Linked DNA regions of Homo sapiens: region 1 is linked to region 2. A link means that fine-mapping ties the variant in region 2 to the expression of a gene that starts in the linked region. Tissue or cell type: whole blood. Region 2 holds a variant in brackets; the other region holds the start of a gene. All regions are shown on one strand. Distances are from middle to middle.

What was found. PIP is the estimated chance that this variant, and not a neighbour inherited with it, causes the effect.
Region 1: it holds the start of DELE1, and the variant in region 2 is fine-mapped to the expression of DELE1 in whole blood (TOPMed, PIP above 0.99).

Annotation. Positions count from the first base shown.
Region 1 is chr5:141,919,222-141,927,325 of GRCh38, forward strand. DELE1 (DAP3 binding cell death enhancer 1) reads left to right here and starts at 4,650. Exons shown (of 12, transcript NM_014773.5): 1 at 4,650-4,751; 2 at 5,360-5,474; 3 at 6,189-6,306. The coding sequence starts at 4,721. RefSeq lists an enhancer at 4,531-5,044.
Region 2 is chr5:141,944,001-141,952,104 of GRCh38, forward strand. PCDH12 (protocadherin 12) reads right to left here. Exons shown (of 4, transcript NM_016580.4): 2 at 7,493-7,590; 3 at 5,432-5,583; 4 at 1-1,805. The coding sequence ends at 1,381. It also overlaps a transcript of RNF14 not described here. Among named protein-coding and RNA genes, the nearest start is that of PCDH12, 10 kb to the right of the region's middle. The variant A/G (reference allele first, on the strand shown) is at 3,432.

The DNA of each region.
Region 1 (8,104 bases), 25 kb before region 2:
AATCCCCACTAATAAAAAGCAAAAGCAAGAGGAGCTAGTACTAGTATCAGTGCTGAGGTGATGACTCAGCTTTCTCAGGGCTGAAGGTGAGGTCACTGGCCTAGAAGGCACAGGGTGAAAATGAGGGCTTGACCCCCACTAATACAGCAGCCAATAGCCTTTCTTGGATCCCTCTGGCCTGGTCACTCCCTTGCCAAAACCCTTCCTAGATGTCTCGTGCCTTCAGGACAGAGTCCAAATGTTTTACGGGCTTACAAGGCGTTATGACCTTGCGCTATTTACCTCTCCAGACTAAAGGCCTATCACCACCCCATCGCCATGACTCCATGCCTCCCTCCCGGCTCCAGCTACAGTGATCTTAAACTGTGCTTTCTTTGCCTTTCTGGAACTTTGTATCAGTCAGCTGTGTCCCCTGCCTGAACTGGGTTTCTTTTCCTCTTCTTCACCTGGTTAGTTTCCAGGCCTCATCATTCAGGTTAATTTAGCATCACTGCTTCCAGGAAGTCTTCCTGACTTCCATGCCTAGGTTATGGGCCTTCCCTGGGTGTTCCCATAGCACTCTGTACTTTCTTCACAACAGCACTTGCTTGTCTCCAAAGTCTACTTCCCAGTATTTGTGACCTTATGTTTTCCCCTCCCACACTGATTCTGGGCTGACCCTGTGAGTTGCTTTAACCAACAGAGTGCAGAAGTGATGCTATGCCAGTTCCTGCCAGCTTCCACTTGTGTACTTTTGGAAGCTCTGAGCCACTGTGTAAGAAGTTCAGCGACACAGCTGGAGAGGTCATGTGGCGCAGAGGGGACCTGAGACTACATGGAGAAAGAGGCCCAGCCTTTCCAATGCCCTACTTGAGTCTTCATATGACTGCCATCTGACTACAACCTCATGAGAGACCCCAAGTGAGACCAGCAGAATTGCCCAGCTGAGCCCAGTCAATTTGCAGAACTGTGAGAGATAATGATTGTTTTAAGCCACTCAATTTTGGGGTGTTTGTTATGCTGCAATAAGTAACTAAAACACCACTCTGTATTTTAATTGCTTACTGACTTTGTTTGCACTCCTAGGCTATTTTCTGTGAGGGCAAGGACCACATCCATGTTTTGTTTTGTTTTGTTTTAATTTTTCCTCAAGACAGAGTCTTGCTCTGTCGCCCAGGCTGGAGTGCAATGGTGCGATCTTAGCTTACTGCAACCTCTGCCTCCTGGGTTCAAGTGATTCTTCTGCCTCAGCCTCCCAAATGGCTGGGATTACAGATGCGCACCACCACGCCTAATTTTTTGTATTTTTTTTAGTAGAGATGGGGTTTCACCATGTTGGCCAGGCTGGTCTTGAACTCCTGGCCTCGTGAACCACCCACCTCGGCCTCCCAAAGAGCTGGGATTACAGGCGTGAGGCACTGCGCCCTGCCCACATCCATGTTTTAAAATTGTTATATACTTAGCATATCCTTTAGCACTAAATAAGCTGTCATATATTTGATTAATGCAAATTAAGAATGCCTACAAAAATGAAGGCAACAAGTATCTAGAATACTCACTGTAGTGACAGTACACAAAGTACACAATGGCATGTGTAGTCATCATGAAAGGTGATTAACTGGACAGCAGGCAATAGGTTCCCAGTGTCAGTTTACCTTTGTGGAGGATTGAGTCAACTTGAGGGACTGTGTAGAGGGACTGAGCCACAATCCAAAACCACAGAGTTTGGGGTCTGGCAGTTGAGGCAGCTGCCATTCAACCAACAGCACTCCCGTGAGCTGCACTCAACAGGTGATCTGCTGTGGGCTCCAGCCACCCTCGCCATCTACCCTCACACAAGTGGTCTGATGTTTCTGTTTATGGGGACAAGAGATGCCATAATGCCATTCTATACATGGGGGCAGATGTCCTAGTCTCTCCTTCAAAACTTTTCAACTAGCTTCAAACAGGGAGGGCCCTCAATGAATGTTTGTATCTGCAATGAATACATTTCCACTCAAATCAGTAAATCCCCTGGCTGGGGTCTGGTACCCTTGGCTGTAATAATCATTAGTACAAGATGTTCTGTCAACAGGGATTGTTTGGACATATTCTTTGGGCTGACAATTTATGTCAAGCCCTATGTGGGACACGGAATAGGGAAATGCTATTCCTGTCCTGAAAGGAGAGAACTGGGAAGGCTAGAGTTACACAAATGAGATAAATACCAAGACAGCATATAATTACTGCTAAACTGTGTAGTAAGAAATTAAGTGCTATAGGAATTGGGAAAAGTAGGGAGCAGGGAGGGCTCAAACAGTTGAGGAGTCTACACTGAAGAGCTGGGATTGGGCTGAACCTTGAGAAATGACACAAACTATGGATAGTCTGAAAGGAAGGAGGGTACAAAAGACGCAGGAGGAAGAACACAGCCAAACCAGCATACTTGTTTGTTACTTTATTTTCGGGACAGCAACACAAGGAATGTGAAAGGTTGCCGTCCCAAATCCCGAAGCAAGGCTATTTCTGAATAGTTGTCCAACATTCAAACTTCTGGGCCTTTATTTATTGTTTCCTCCGCTTGCAATGCCTTTCTTCCTTCTCCACCTGGCAAGCTCTTATTCACATTTAAAGGCCCCGCTCAAATGCAACTACTTTTCTGAAGCCTTCCAAGGGATCCCACAATCCATTGTTCATGCTTCTATGGGAACCTAACCTATTACACTTGCCTGCTTACCTCCCCTACTAATATAATTAATAGCAACTTACACTTACTGGGCTTTTACTATGTGCCAGGAACTATGCTAAACATTTTTATTTATTTATTTTTTATTTTTTGAAGGGTATTCCCAAAACACCAAGTTAAACATTTTTAACATATTATTTTATTTAAACCTCACAACAATTGCATGAGGTATTTTCCCTATTTTACGGATGAAGCTCTTGAGACTTAGTGTGGTTAAGGAACCTGCACAAGATAACATACCTACGAAGTAAGCAAGCTGTGATTCCAACCCAGATTTGTGGGACTCCAAAGCCCACTACTAATCCACTGGACCGTGTTCCTGGAGGCCACAAATGCTCTTTCCTCAGCTGTCTTCTCAGATCCTAGAACGGGCTGATATATGGCTCAAAAGTTCTTTAACGGCCAGGCACGGTGGCTCAAGCCTGTAATCCCAGCACTTTGGAAGGCCAAGGCAGGAGGATCACCTGAGGTCCAGGAGTTCGAGACCAACCTGGCCAACATGGTGAAACCCTGTCTCTACTAAAAATACAAAAATTAGCAGGATGTGGTAGCAGGCGCCTGTAATCTCAGCTACTTGGGAGGCTGAGGCAAGAGAATCGCTTGAACCTGGGAGGCAGAGGTTGCAGTGAGCCGAGATCACACCATTGCACTCCAGCCTGGGCGACAGAGAATCCGTCTCAAAAGAAAAAAAAAAGTTGTCTAACATATTAATACAACTTTCAAGCCACATGCCTCGGTCTAAAAGTAGGTGCCCCCAGTACACTTTTACCCCAGGTAGCAACTTCCACTCACCTTAAAGTCACATACCTGGAGGAAGGGGATAGGGAGGAAATCTAAACATCTTATACTTGAATGTAAGCTCCGTTATTTCACGGATTCAAATGTGGTGAAAGGAACTATTTTTTTTTCCTTTTTTTTTTGAGATGGAGTCTCACTCTGTCGCCCAGGCGCGATCTCGGCTCACTGCAACCTCCCGTCTCCCGTGTTCAAGCAATTCTCCTGCCTCAGCCTCCAGAGTAGCTAGGATTACAGGCGCCCACCACCACGCGCAACTGATTTTTGTATTTTTAGTAGAGACAGGGTTTCACCATGTTGGCCAGGCTGGTCTCAAACTCCTGACCTCAGGTGATCCGCCCGCCTCGGCCTCCCAGAGTGCTGGGATTACAGGCGTGAGCCACCGGGACCAGACGGAACTATTCTTTTCCACAAAAGAACAAACACATACATAACTTTTGCCACGTCTGAAGACGAGGGTTCTAATAGGGCGCGGGTGGTGTCTCAGGTATTTTGAAAGGAGCTACCCAAGAATCTCAGCTTGTCAGGCCAGTCATTCCATTTGACCCTATCTGGCGCGTATTGGGGCCCCGACAAGGTAAGGGGTTGGCATGAAGCTGCACAGTGAGATAAAGCTGGACCGGAGCTAGAACCCAGAATCAAAGCCTTGCCCTGTGCGGTTTCTCATCGCCTACGCAGTCGGGCCCTGGCCTGGCATCTCCAGGCAGGTGGCCTTGGACGGAAGCCCGGCCTACTGGCTTCATTTGTGGGACCCCGGGGGTCCTCTCCTCCGCCCATGGAGCCTGGTTACTCCCACTTCCTCAAGCCTAGGGCCTGGAGAAGCCTTTCCTGGTTCGCGGCCTCACGGTCTGCAAGGTCCTCTTACTTCCCTGAAGCCGCTCCAGCCCCACTTCCCGAAGGTCCCGCTTCCGGGTGGCTCGCTTCGCCACCTGCGGTCCCCTGCCTCGGCTTGGGAACGCCAAGGACATCCCCCACGGAAGCCTGGGCCCACATCCCCATGCCCTTGCCGCACGTCACCGCCCCGCTGGCCCCGAATACGCCTCCGCCCTGCACTTCCTCTCTGCAGCGCCGTCTTTCCGGCCGGGCTCCCTTCTAATTGGCCAGCTCAGAGCTTCCTCGGGTACTCGGCCACTCGGGGCATCGCGGCGGCCTTTCTAGCCGCTGTCCCAAGGGTTGGTCTCGCGCTTTCGGCTGCGAGCTCTCTGTGGTGCTGGCAGCGACATGTGGCGCCTCCCGGGACTCCTGGGCCGAGGTAAGGGACGTCCAAGCAACCAGCGTCACTCTGGGCCGCAAAGACCGAACTGGAGTGGGGGCGGGCCCGAGGAAACAGCCGAAGCGATCGTGGGCCGGGTTAGAGCCAAGGAAGGCGGGGCTTGAAAGAGGGCGGGGAAGTCAGGGGCTGCTGGAATTTGAGATGTGGATGGGCCTAGCTAGAAGAGGGTGGAGTCCAAGAAGTTGGTAGGACTGTTGGGAGGGGGAGGAGTCCAATGGCAGGAGATGGTGGACTGAATGAATGAAAGAGGATTAGGGGCCAATGGAGTAGGCATAGCCAGTGAAGAGAGGAGAGGTTTAGAGTCAAAGAGCCCCAAACATTAGTGAGAGTATATGTATGAACGTTTGGTCATCTTAGAACAGTGGTTGGCATCCACAGGAGACCAGCAGAATCACATGGGCGCTTTTAAAAAACGTGGATGCTCTACCCTGAGAAATCTTAGTTTATTGGTTCTGGGGTACTACCCTAGAATCTGTAGTAGATAAAAGATTCCCATGTGTATCCATGTTTAAGAACCTCTGCTGAGGCAGATGACAGTGATTCCTGGGTTCTTGTTGAGGTGCCTGAGTTTTGGTTGTTCTGTACAGCTCTTCCCCGTACACTGGGACCTAGCCTCTGGAGGGTGACTCCTAAGTCCACCAGCCCAGATGGGCCTCAGACTACCTCCTCCACTTTGCTGGTTCCTGTGCCTAACCTCGACAGGTAAGATACTGCCATTTTACCACTCATTTCCTCCCCTAGTCACCCTTTTTTTTTATTTTTTTTTTTTTGTTGTTTTTTGAGATGGAGTCTCATTCTGTCGCCCAGGCTGGAGTGCAGTGGGGCAATCTCAGCTCACTGCAACCTCCGCCTCCCAGGTTCAAGCAGTTCTCTGCCTCAGCCTCCCGAGTAGCTGGGATTACAGGCACCCGTCACCACACCCTGCTAATTTTTATTTTATTTTATTTTTTTTGAGACAGAGTCTCGCTCTGTCGCCCAGGCTGGAGTGCAGTGGCGCGATCTTGGCTCACTGAAACCTCCGCCTCCTGGGTTCAAGCGATTCTGCTGCCTCAGCCTCCCAAGTAGCTGGGATTTCAGGCATGCACCATCACGCCTGGCTAATTTTTTTTGTATTTTTAGTAGAGACGGGGTTTCACCATGTTAGCCAGGATGGTCTTGATCTCCTGATCTCATGATCTGCCCGCCTCAGCCTCCCAAAGTGCTGGGATTACAGTGTGAGCCACTGTACCCAGCCAATTTTTATATTTTTAGTAGAGATGGGGTTTCACCATCTTGACCAGGCTGGTCTTGAACTCCTGACCTCGTGATCCACCCACCTCAGCCTCCCAAATTGTTGGGATTACAGGTGTGAGCCACCGCACCCAGTCCCTGGTCTCCCTTTGCCCCTACTTGATAGCCTCTTATTTCATCATCTAGGTCAGGTCCCCATGGCCCAGGCACGAGCGGGGGTCCAAGGTCCCATGGATGGAAGGATGCCTTCCAATGGATGTCTTCCCGTGTCTCCCCGAACACCCTATGGGATGCCATATCTTGGGTAAGGCTTCCCCAGCCTGGTCCTTGACCTTCAGTGTAGATGAGAATGATCCTTCATGGGTATACAGCCGAACCTGGAACAAGGGCTAGGGAATCACTGTGTCCATTTAACAAGTAACCCATGGTATTGGAGCATATTCAAGGAGATATTGCCACTTTCCACACCCCCGCCATGTATGTTTTCCTCATTTAATTCAGTAAACATTTATGTAACACCTTGTCTGGGCCAGGCATTTTTGCTAGTCACTACGGACATAGCAGAGAACAAGATAGATACATTCTTGCCTTCATGGATCTTACAATAAATAATAATACATTGCATCTTTTTTTTATTATTCATTTTTTTTATTTTTAAATTATTATTTTTTTCTGAGACAGAGTCTTTCTCTGTCGCCCAGGCTGAAGTGCAGCGGCATGATCTTGGCTCACTGCAACCTCCGTCTCCCGGGTTCAAGCAATTCTCCTGCTTCAGCCTCCCAAGTAGCTGGGATTACAGGCACGTGCCACCACGCCTGGATAATTTTTGTGTTTTTAGTAGAGACGGGGTTTCACCATTTTGGCCAGGATGGTCTCGAACTCCTGATCTCGTGACCCACCCACCGCGGCCTCCCAAAGTGCTGGGATTACAGCTGTGAGCCACCGCGCCCGGCCTTATAGCATTATTTATTAATGTAAAGTATTATACATGCATTATCTTGTGTAATCCTTACAAAAATCTTACAAGGGAAATATCACCTTCATTTTACAGCTGAGGAATCTCAGGCTCTGAAATATTAGGTAACATGCGTAGGGTCTCATACCTGTTAAGTGGAGGAGCCAGATTTAACTCTGGAGTTCATGTTCTACTGCTTGGTTGCTGCATCAAATACAGAGCCTAGCCCGTAATAGTTGCTCAAAAATATTTGTTGAACCTGATCTATAAGGTCAGATTCTTACTAGTGAACACTAGGTCTCATAGGGCAGAGTCTTCGCTTTTCAGGCAATGTTCCAGGTGGAAGTTCTGCTTATAAGATCTTCTGAATGAAGTTGACACACACATCACTCTCATGTTTGTCACAGCTCATCCCTGCTGCTTTCGTGCTGTGTACTTTGGACAAATGACTTGACCTGTGTGACCCTTGGCTTTCTCATCTGTAAATTGGTGTCATCAGCAGAGCTGAGCCTGGGATGTCTCCATGACAGGGTTACCCCTCTATGGGGAGCTGTGGACTAAGGCCATATCATACCCTGAAGAGAGGAGCATTTTCCCATGTTGCCAAAGAAGATCTGAGCCCTAGGGCTGTCCCATAGTGAGAAGTAGGAAGTGGGCCTGGATTCCAGAAGTCCCAATGCCATCCCTGTGCTCTGTCACTACTGCTCATATGAAAGGGTCTGCACGCAAGCTGTCCTCAGTACCATGGATACTTGTCTCTGTTCTTCACAATGCTGGTGCCTTTTCTTCTGGCCTTAGCCCACACGTCACCCCCACAGACAGGCTTTCCCTGACTCCTTGTCTTGTCAGGACCCCTTTTATGCTCTGTGTAACTCTCTGATTAGTTTCCTTCTTGGCATTTAACATCACTAGTAATTACTCTATTTCTCTCTGTAGTTGTGTTTTGTCTTTCTAAACACAAGATATAAACTTCATGAGGGCAGAAATTATGTCTGTCTTACTTGCTATTGTATGCAGTGCCTGGAGCAACAAGTAAGTATCTGGGTCAACCTGTGTGTTTTTTTTAGGCTGGAGCGCAGTGGTGCGATCCTGGCTCACTGCAACCTCTGCCTCCCAGGTTCAAGCAATTTTCATGCCTCAACCTCCG
Region 2 (8,104 bases):
AAAGAGGAGCAGATAGAGGAACTTTTGCCTGCAGTGTCCAGGAGAGACCCACACTATTTAGAAGCTAGCTGATTGGCTGCTCGGAAATTTCCAAGAAAATTATAAAGCTGAACCTTGGGAAAATATCTGCTGTTTCTTCCCTCCCCCATCCCCTGGAAGGCTGGCTGCTGTCAGTGCCGATTTCATAGACCCAGTTCACACAGCGTCCTCTGGGATTCACAAGCCTGAACCTGCAATGACAGAGGAAGGTTTACCCGCAAATGGGGTTGGGAAAGATGACATCCGCACTTGAAGAGCTACTTGTTGGGAAAGAACGGGTCTGCATCAGTTCAGATCCAAGTTCCTTTTGCCTTGTGCTTGGGAATGTAGAGAGGTGCGGGCCTGGATGGCTTTGGAAATGTTCCTTTCAACAGTGTTTCCCGAGGGAGCTCGAGCAAGTTCACTGCTGCCAACAGCTCACCTCCAGGGCCTTCCCTTCTCCTGTCTTTGGTTGGCAGGCTGGTGTCAAGGTTGAAGGCATGGGTTTTGGTGTTGGCCCAGCCTGGGTCCAAATCCTGGCTCTGGCTCTACTCCCTGCTTGATCTTGGGAAAGCCACTTGACCTCTCCAAGCCCCATATCCGTGTCTGTGAAATGGGGTTAATAATACCTCCCTCCCAGGATTGTTGGAAAATCAAATTAAATCCTATTGTAAAGCCTGGTGCCTGGCTCATGTAAATGCTTTATAAATAGTTGTGCTTTCTTAGCTCTAATTTTGCAGCTGAGAAGCAGATTAGTTGGTAACATAGTGATAGGGGAACAGGGGTAAGAGCACACATGTCTGCTATTTGTGTACCTGTTACTGTGTACCAAGGTGCCCCACTCCTGTCCAGGCCCAGTGTGACGGTCTTGCCAGGGATTGGATGACAAATAAACCCCACTCTATTACTCTTCCCTTCTCCCTCTTGACAGGTGCAAACAGGAGAATGAATCACTGCTTTTCCTTTATTGATAGGTCAGAGAGCATTTCCTGGCACCCCCAGGGTACAGCCCCCTGACTCCTGCTACCCAAGAAGGCCACCCTTTCCTGCCTGTGATACTCCGTGGCATCTGTTCTGCCAGAGGACTGACCCTTTGTGCTCCACATATGTTTTGCCAGGAAACACTTATCTCAGCCACAAACCGTCCCTGTCCTCCAAAAGACTCAGAGCTGCTTACAAGGGGCTGCTTTGGTCAGTCAGCTGTTAGTCCTGGGGCTCTTGCCTCCTCTGTGGGGGTAGCATCAGTCACCCTAAAGTTCTCAGGCCGCCGCTAGCTAGTGAGTTACAAGATTTTAGAAACCAGCTCTTGTCCACAGATCCTCAGGCCCCTGGTTCTTGGATCCAGAGGCGTCTGAGGTATGTTCACAGGCACCTGCTGCTGCTGCTGCTGCCTCTGCTCTTGCCCTCAGTCCCCGTCTTTCCACCTGGGTCCCCTTGCACTTTCATGCCTGAGGCTGCACTGGTGGCCAAGTCTAAACTGAGGGTCCTCCCGCAGACCGAGAGCCGCCGCAGCGCCTCGGAGGCGGCCTCCACGGGCATGCTGGAGCGCTGTTCCAGCAGCATCTCCAGCAGTGAGCTCATCTCCGAGACAAAGGTGCTGGCCAGCCTCGTGCCTGTTGGGCTCAGCTCTGGTGCCTCTGCCTTGCCGAACGTCTGGAAGGTCCTTGGCTCCTCCGTGGCTGCAGCATCCGGGGAGATCACATTGTCACGGTAGTTGGTGGTGAGGGGCAAAGAGAGTCTCGCCATCCAGGCCGGGTCAGGGGCGCTCAGCCGGTCCAGGGCCAGACCTGTGGGGGAAGGAGGGGACACAGTGAGGGCCAGGCTCCGGGAAGGGCCAGGCGGGTGAGGGTGGGGCAATGAGCAGGGCAAGGGCAGTGGACAAAGGAGGGAAGGGAAATGGCAGGGGACAGACAGAGTGGCCAGACGGGGACAGGAAGGAAGAGGCCCTGACAGGGAAGCTCCCTGGGTAGGAAAGCAGTCGACTGACACACCCGGGCGAACCAAGTGGGGAAGCAGCAGGAGGAGGAGAAGGCCTAGAAGTAGAAATTTGCCGATTTCTGAAGAATTTCCCAATCTGGGCGTGTGTTTCCAGTCTCAGTGTCTTCTATATTTCATCCAGGATTTTTACCCCTCAGGGCGCCTTCTCCCCTCAGGGCTCCACTAGCTGAGGATGGAGGGAAAATCCCTTTTCTTTGCCAAGGCTGGAGTTCCTGACTTAGCGCTGCCTTTTTTGGTTCCCATCCATAATAATAGGGACCACATATTAGGTACTTACGTGATGAGCAATTTACATAATTATTTCATTTAACTTCACAAACCTTTGAGGTCAAGAGTATTATTCCCATTTGATGGATGAGGAAACTGAAGCTGAAAGAAGTTAAGTCACACATCTGCTAGGCAACCAAACCTCAATTTGATGCCAGGTCTGATGACTTTGAAGCCTATGATGGCACCACCCTACCCTCTCTCTGAAGAGCTGGCCCTTCCTCCCCCTGGATACTCCAGGTGCCCAGCTGGGGCCTCTGGAATTCCCAGGCTACCTAAGGTCTGCACTGTTACCACCTGGCCCCAGATCCTCAAATCCTCCTCAACATCATCTCTCAAGCTGCTGGAACCCTGGCCTAGAGTCAGGCTGGGGAGGGGCTGCCTGTCCAAGGGCTGTCCCAGGAGAGGGACTGGGGTAGTGGCGGTGGCAAGTCAGCCTGGTGGCTGGGAATTCAAAAAACTGGCCCCTACATTTGCAATGCCACAGTCACCCTTCTTTTCCCATCCCTTTAACAGAAAATCCTGTTTCAAGAAACCAGTCCCAGGCCTGATGGTAGAGACCAAGCCAGAGGAAAGAAATTATAAGTCTTGGAGTTAAGAAACAGTGTCTTAAAAAAATTAAAAAAAAAAAAAAAAGCACAACATCTACTTAACATTTATCTAATGTTTGCCTAAGGTGAGTTACTTTAAAATCTGCGCACAGAATGAAAGACTGGAAGGAGATATGTCAAAATGTTAACTGAAATTACCTCTGGGCAGAAGCAATCCATTCTCTTTTTGTTTATCTATGTTTTTCTATATTAACCAAATATTACTTATGTAATTTGAACAAGTTATTCCGAAGTATGTGTAGTCATTTATTGTACTGATAAATGAATCTCTGCCCTGCATTCTGGACTGTGCAGCTTGTGAGACACTGTTGGGCTCCTGCCCTACTGGATCCTTGGGTTTAGCCCCATGCCTGGGACTTAGTGAATGTTTGTTGAATGATTGAATGAACATAAATATTAACCTTCAACATTTGGGAAATGCAAACCTTAGTTCCTTGAGACTCTGAGGCTATAAGGTTGGATGGAACTCTTGGTGTTATAGAATCAGGCCTTTCCTTTTACATGGGTCAGAGAGCTTCAGAAGGAGTGAAGCTTGGA[A/G]TGAGAAAATCACTGGGGCGTATGAGAACAGCTGAAAAGTGATGCTGAATTCACCCAGCATCACCCACCAGTTCTAGCTGCAGGTGGGCACTGGGCCAACCTGGGTTTGATTTCCCAGCTTTGCAGCTTAGGGGCAGTGTGTGTGACCTTGGGAAAATGGCTTAACCTCTCTAAGCTCCCGTTTCCTCTTAGGAAGTGGTGAGACAGTAGTACGTATCTTGTGGAGTTGTTGTGAGGTTCAGTGAGTTCATGCAACCAGGAAAACATTATCATGGTCGCATTCTCAAGTGGGGCAATCTGAATCCGAAGCAGCAAATCTGAAGCAATCTGAAGCAGATCTGAAGCAGCAAGATCCCAGTCTCCCCATGGCAGTCCAGCCTGTGAGCAGCAAAGGCTTTTCTGCCCCTCCTCTTTCCTTACCCCCAACTCCTTACAGTGCCCCTGTGTTCAGTACCCTTTGTGCTGTGGGCAAGCAGGACCGTGTGGGAACTGACCCCACAGGTTCCAGCCAGAGCTGACCAATAGAGATAGAATCCAAAGCTATATCCCCCAGCCATACATAGCCAGTGAGCACTTGAAATGTGGCTGGTATGGCAGAACTGAATATTTTATTTTATTTAATTTTAATTCACTTAAATTTAAATAGCCACTTGTCGCTAGTGACTACCTCATTGAACAACACAGCTCTAAAATTTACAGCCACACTGCCTGTGTTAATAACCATCCACGAGCTGCACAACCTTGGGCAAATTATGAAACACCCCTGACCCTCACATTTTTCCTTTATGAAATGGGGATAATGAATAGCCCCTATCTCATAAGATTTTCTCATGAGGTACTTAGAACAGGGCCTAGCACATAGAAAGTGCCCAATAAACATTAGCAATATTTTTTAACCAAGGAAAGAGAAGTCCCTGCCATACCTTCAGTGTGTCTGCAGCCAGATGGAGCACATGAGAAACAGTGTTAACTACATAGATAGAAAACCACAGCACAGGGATGGTCTGCCGTGGGGTGTGTTACCAAAGGAGGCTGACCAATGTCCACAGCAGGGGCGGGGGGCGCTAGCAGATTCTTGAATTCAAGTTCACATTATGTATTTATTGTCAAAGCTAATTATTTCTCTGCAAAAAAATCTTTTTGTTTTCATTGCAATTGTTAGCATATTAAAGAGTTGACCTGGTTCCCAGGGTGAAAGGGTATTGAAACACACCAAACGCCAATGAGTGGTAAGAAGTCCATAGAGGACAGGCTGGCTCAGGGTTTGGCTCCCCTTCAATCACTGGTGAGCTGGGTGACTCTGGGAAGGCTACTTGATTTTTTTGAGCCTCGGTTTGCTCATCTGTAAATTCGAGGTAATAATTATCTACTTGAGGGGATTGGTTGGAGGCTTAAATGAGATCATGTACATAAGATGCTTCCCCAGTGCCTGGCATGTTCACTATTTTTACAATGATTTTTAAAATGAATAATCAACGTAGGCCAGGTGCCTACTTTGGCTTTGATTACAGGTGGCTCATGCCTCTAATGCCAGCACTTTGGGAGGCTGAGGTGGGTGGATTGCTTGAGCCCAGGAGTTGGAGACCAGCCTGGGCAACAGGTGAATCCCTGTCCCTACAAAAAAAAAAAAAAATCAAAAATTAGCGGGATGTGGTGGTGGTGCTCACCTGTAGTCCCAGCTACTTGGGAGGCTAAGGTGGGAGGATCACCTGAGCCCAGGAGGTCAATGCTGCAGTGAGCTGTGATCATGCTGTGATCATGCCACTGTACTCCAGCCTGGGTGACAGAGCAAGACCCTGTCTAAAAAAAAAAAAAATCAAAGTAGAACCTGGTCTTTAAAATACTTTCTGAGGCTGCAAGGGTGCAAGGGAAGTTAAATGTTGCTGATGTTCCTCCACAGAAACAGAATGGCTTTTCCCTGCAGTGGATTGGAGCAGAACTCTGAAGCTTGGACACCATGGGGCAGAAGCAGGGTCAAGGTAACTCCAGGGGGTCCCTACCTGTGCTGGGGTCCAGCAGACTTGACAGCTCTTCTTCTAGCAGTTGCTTCACAGAGAGGTCCTCTTCAGGATCCAAAGGCCCTTCCTCCTGTTCTGGGTCTGTCTGGCCTCCAGCCCTTGCACTTGGGCCATCTGTGTCTGGGATTGCACTCCTGCAAAAGAAACCAACCAGTCCATGGGTAGGGACATTCCCATATAGATTCATTCATTCATGCCCATTCATGTTTGCATTCATTTACCCATATAGGGAACTGGATACACAGCCTGGCCTCTAGAGTCAGACCAACCTGGATCATGTGATTCCCGCCCTCCTCTTACTCTGTTTCCTCATTTGTAAAATGAGAGTAATAAATAACACCCACCTCACAGGGTGTTGTGAGGGTAAAATGAGACGTTGTAGGTAGAGGGGCCTACCACAGAGCCTGGCACATTGTAAGCACTCAGCAGACAGAAGTGAAGATGAGTTCATTGATATCATTCTCGTTGCCCCTCCCATGTCTAGGTATTGCCTGGCACACAGGAGGAGTTTAGTAAACCTCAGTGGAGCCAGTGCAGCCGTCCATCCGTCCGTAGGAGAAGGCTGGGATTTTTGCCTGTCTCATTGCCTGCTCCCTTACTGATGCTCAGAACAGGGCGTGGCACACAGTGGGTGCTGAATGAGTGACTGAACATTCCTTCCTCCCTACTTTAGGCCAAATCCTAGGCCAGAAGAGCAGACCTATGGAGGGTGCAGCCGGAGTGAGGCAGCCTAAAGCTGCTCAGAATCTGCTACCTGCACCCCAGTCTCCTGCTGTCTCCATCCTGGTCCCTCTCTCCCATAGACACTTGGGGACAGGCCTGGACCCTCATCCCAGCAGGTGGGAAGGCTACCTGAGGGGTTTTAAGGCGTAGGAGTCCTTCTGTTTGTTTGGTTTTGTTCCCCTGTAGCCATTTCTGCTGCTGTGAAGAAATGAGCAGGGAGGTGGCAAGTGTGTGGGTGATAATGACAACTAATGTTTTTGAGCAGTGAGTCTGAGTCAGGCCTTATGCGATGCAAGGTCCATGCACCGTCTTATTCAAACCTTCCACACCTGTAAGGGGTTCTCTTTAATCAACCCATTGTACAAATGAGAAAACCAAGACTTGTGAAGATTTTGCAGGTTGCCCAAGGTCCCCATAGATTAAGAGATAAAGCAAGACTTCAAATCCAGGCCAGTGTGACCCTGGAGTGTGTGGACTCACCCCTGCAGTACACTACCTCTCACCATCCTTGTAAAAAGAAGCTGTAAGTTGTCAGGGCAAGAGCACTGATGCAGGAGTCAGGAACTCTGAGAGCTGGTCCCAGCTTTGCCACTCACTTGTTACATGACCTTTAGCAAAATTGCTTCAAGGGGAAAGGAGTTAGCATTGTGTGTGCACCTACTATGTGTCAGTTGCTGGGCTATGGGCTTAGAATACAATTGATTATGAAATCCTCACCCCATTACCACAAGGGAAATGGGATGGGTTCTGTTTTACAGATGGGGAAACCAAGGTCCTGAGAGATTATCTCACTTGCTCAAGTTTACATAGCTGGTTTGAATCAAGCTACTCAGAGCCTCAGTTTCTCCATCCGTAACAAGAAGTTGGATTTGATGTTCTCTTAAGGTGTCTTCAATTCTAGGATTGCCCAAAGGGACACGCCCACACAGCCATGTCTTTAGTGGGGAGCCTTCATATTATGTTTATGGGTCAAGAGAAAGAGAGGTGACAGTTACAGATATAAAGGCAATTTACAGCACCTCTGTAATTGGGACAAATACAGTCTCAGGGATGAGGTCATTTCCTTGGTGACTACTGTATTGATGGTATTTATCAATACAGCTAGTTAGTCCTACAGGACTTCTAGGTCCTGTAAATACTATCAATACAGTCACCTCACGACCAAAACTCCCAGGGTGGGAGGATGGATGCTGTCTGCTGCACCCTCCCAGGGGACCGGTGTCTGACTTGTGCTCACCCTTCCTCACTCACAGAGGCTGCAGTGATGAGGGGCGGCCAGTAGGGGCCTTGAGATGCCTGTGGGGGCTACGTGCTGCTTACCTGCTGCCTCCTGGCTTGGCCAAGTACTTATTTCCTCGGTGGTTTGGTTTGGGCTGGAATTGGCCCTGATGCAGCAAGGACAGCAGCTGGGAGATTTGCTACAAGACAGGAAAAATCTGTTGACTCCACACAATTCCGACTCAGCACACTTCCTCGCCGGATGTTTCCCTCAATGCCGGTGCTTTCTTTTTATAGTCTTTCCTCTGGCTTCAGATGTTTGTGTGATCAGATGGGGGATGGTGCCCAGTGACAGAGACAGGGACCTGGGCGGGCAGGTCCCCTGCTCTGTCATGTCACCCCAGGACCTGAGTGTCTGAAGGAGAGCAAGAGGACCCTCTGGGCCTGTCCCCTCATACTCATTCCTCCGAGTGTCCTGCACCTGGTGGACTCTGAGAGATGGGGTGAAAAAGGCATTTCCTGACCATCAATTTGTTGTTACTTTGATGAAGATTATCTTAAAGAGTTATGTTCCCCTTTAGCAGTATTTGGACATTCGGCCAATTTTTGTTGACCAGATGTAAGACTATGTTGTAGAGAAGGCAAAATGGTGTCATTGAATTATTCATTTATTCATCTTTTCATTCATTCAACAAGTACTTAATAAGTGCCAGG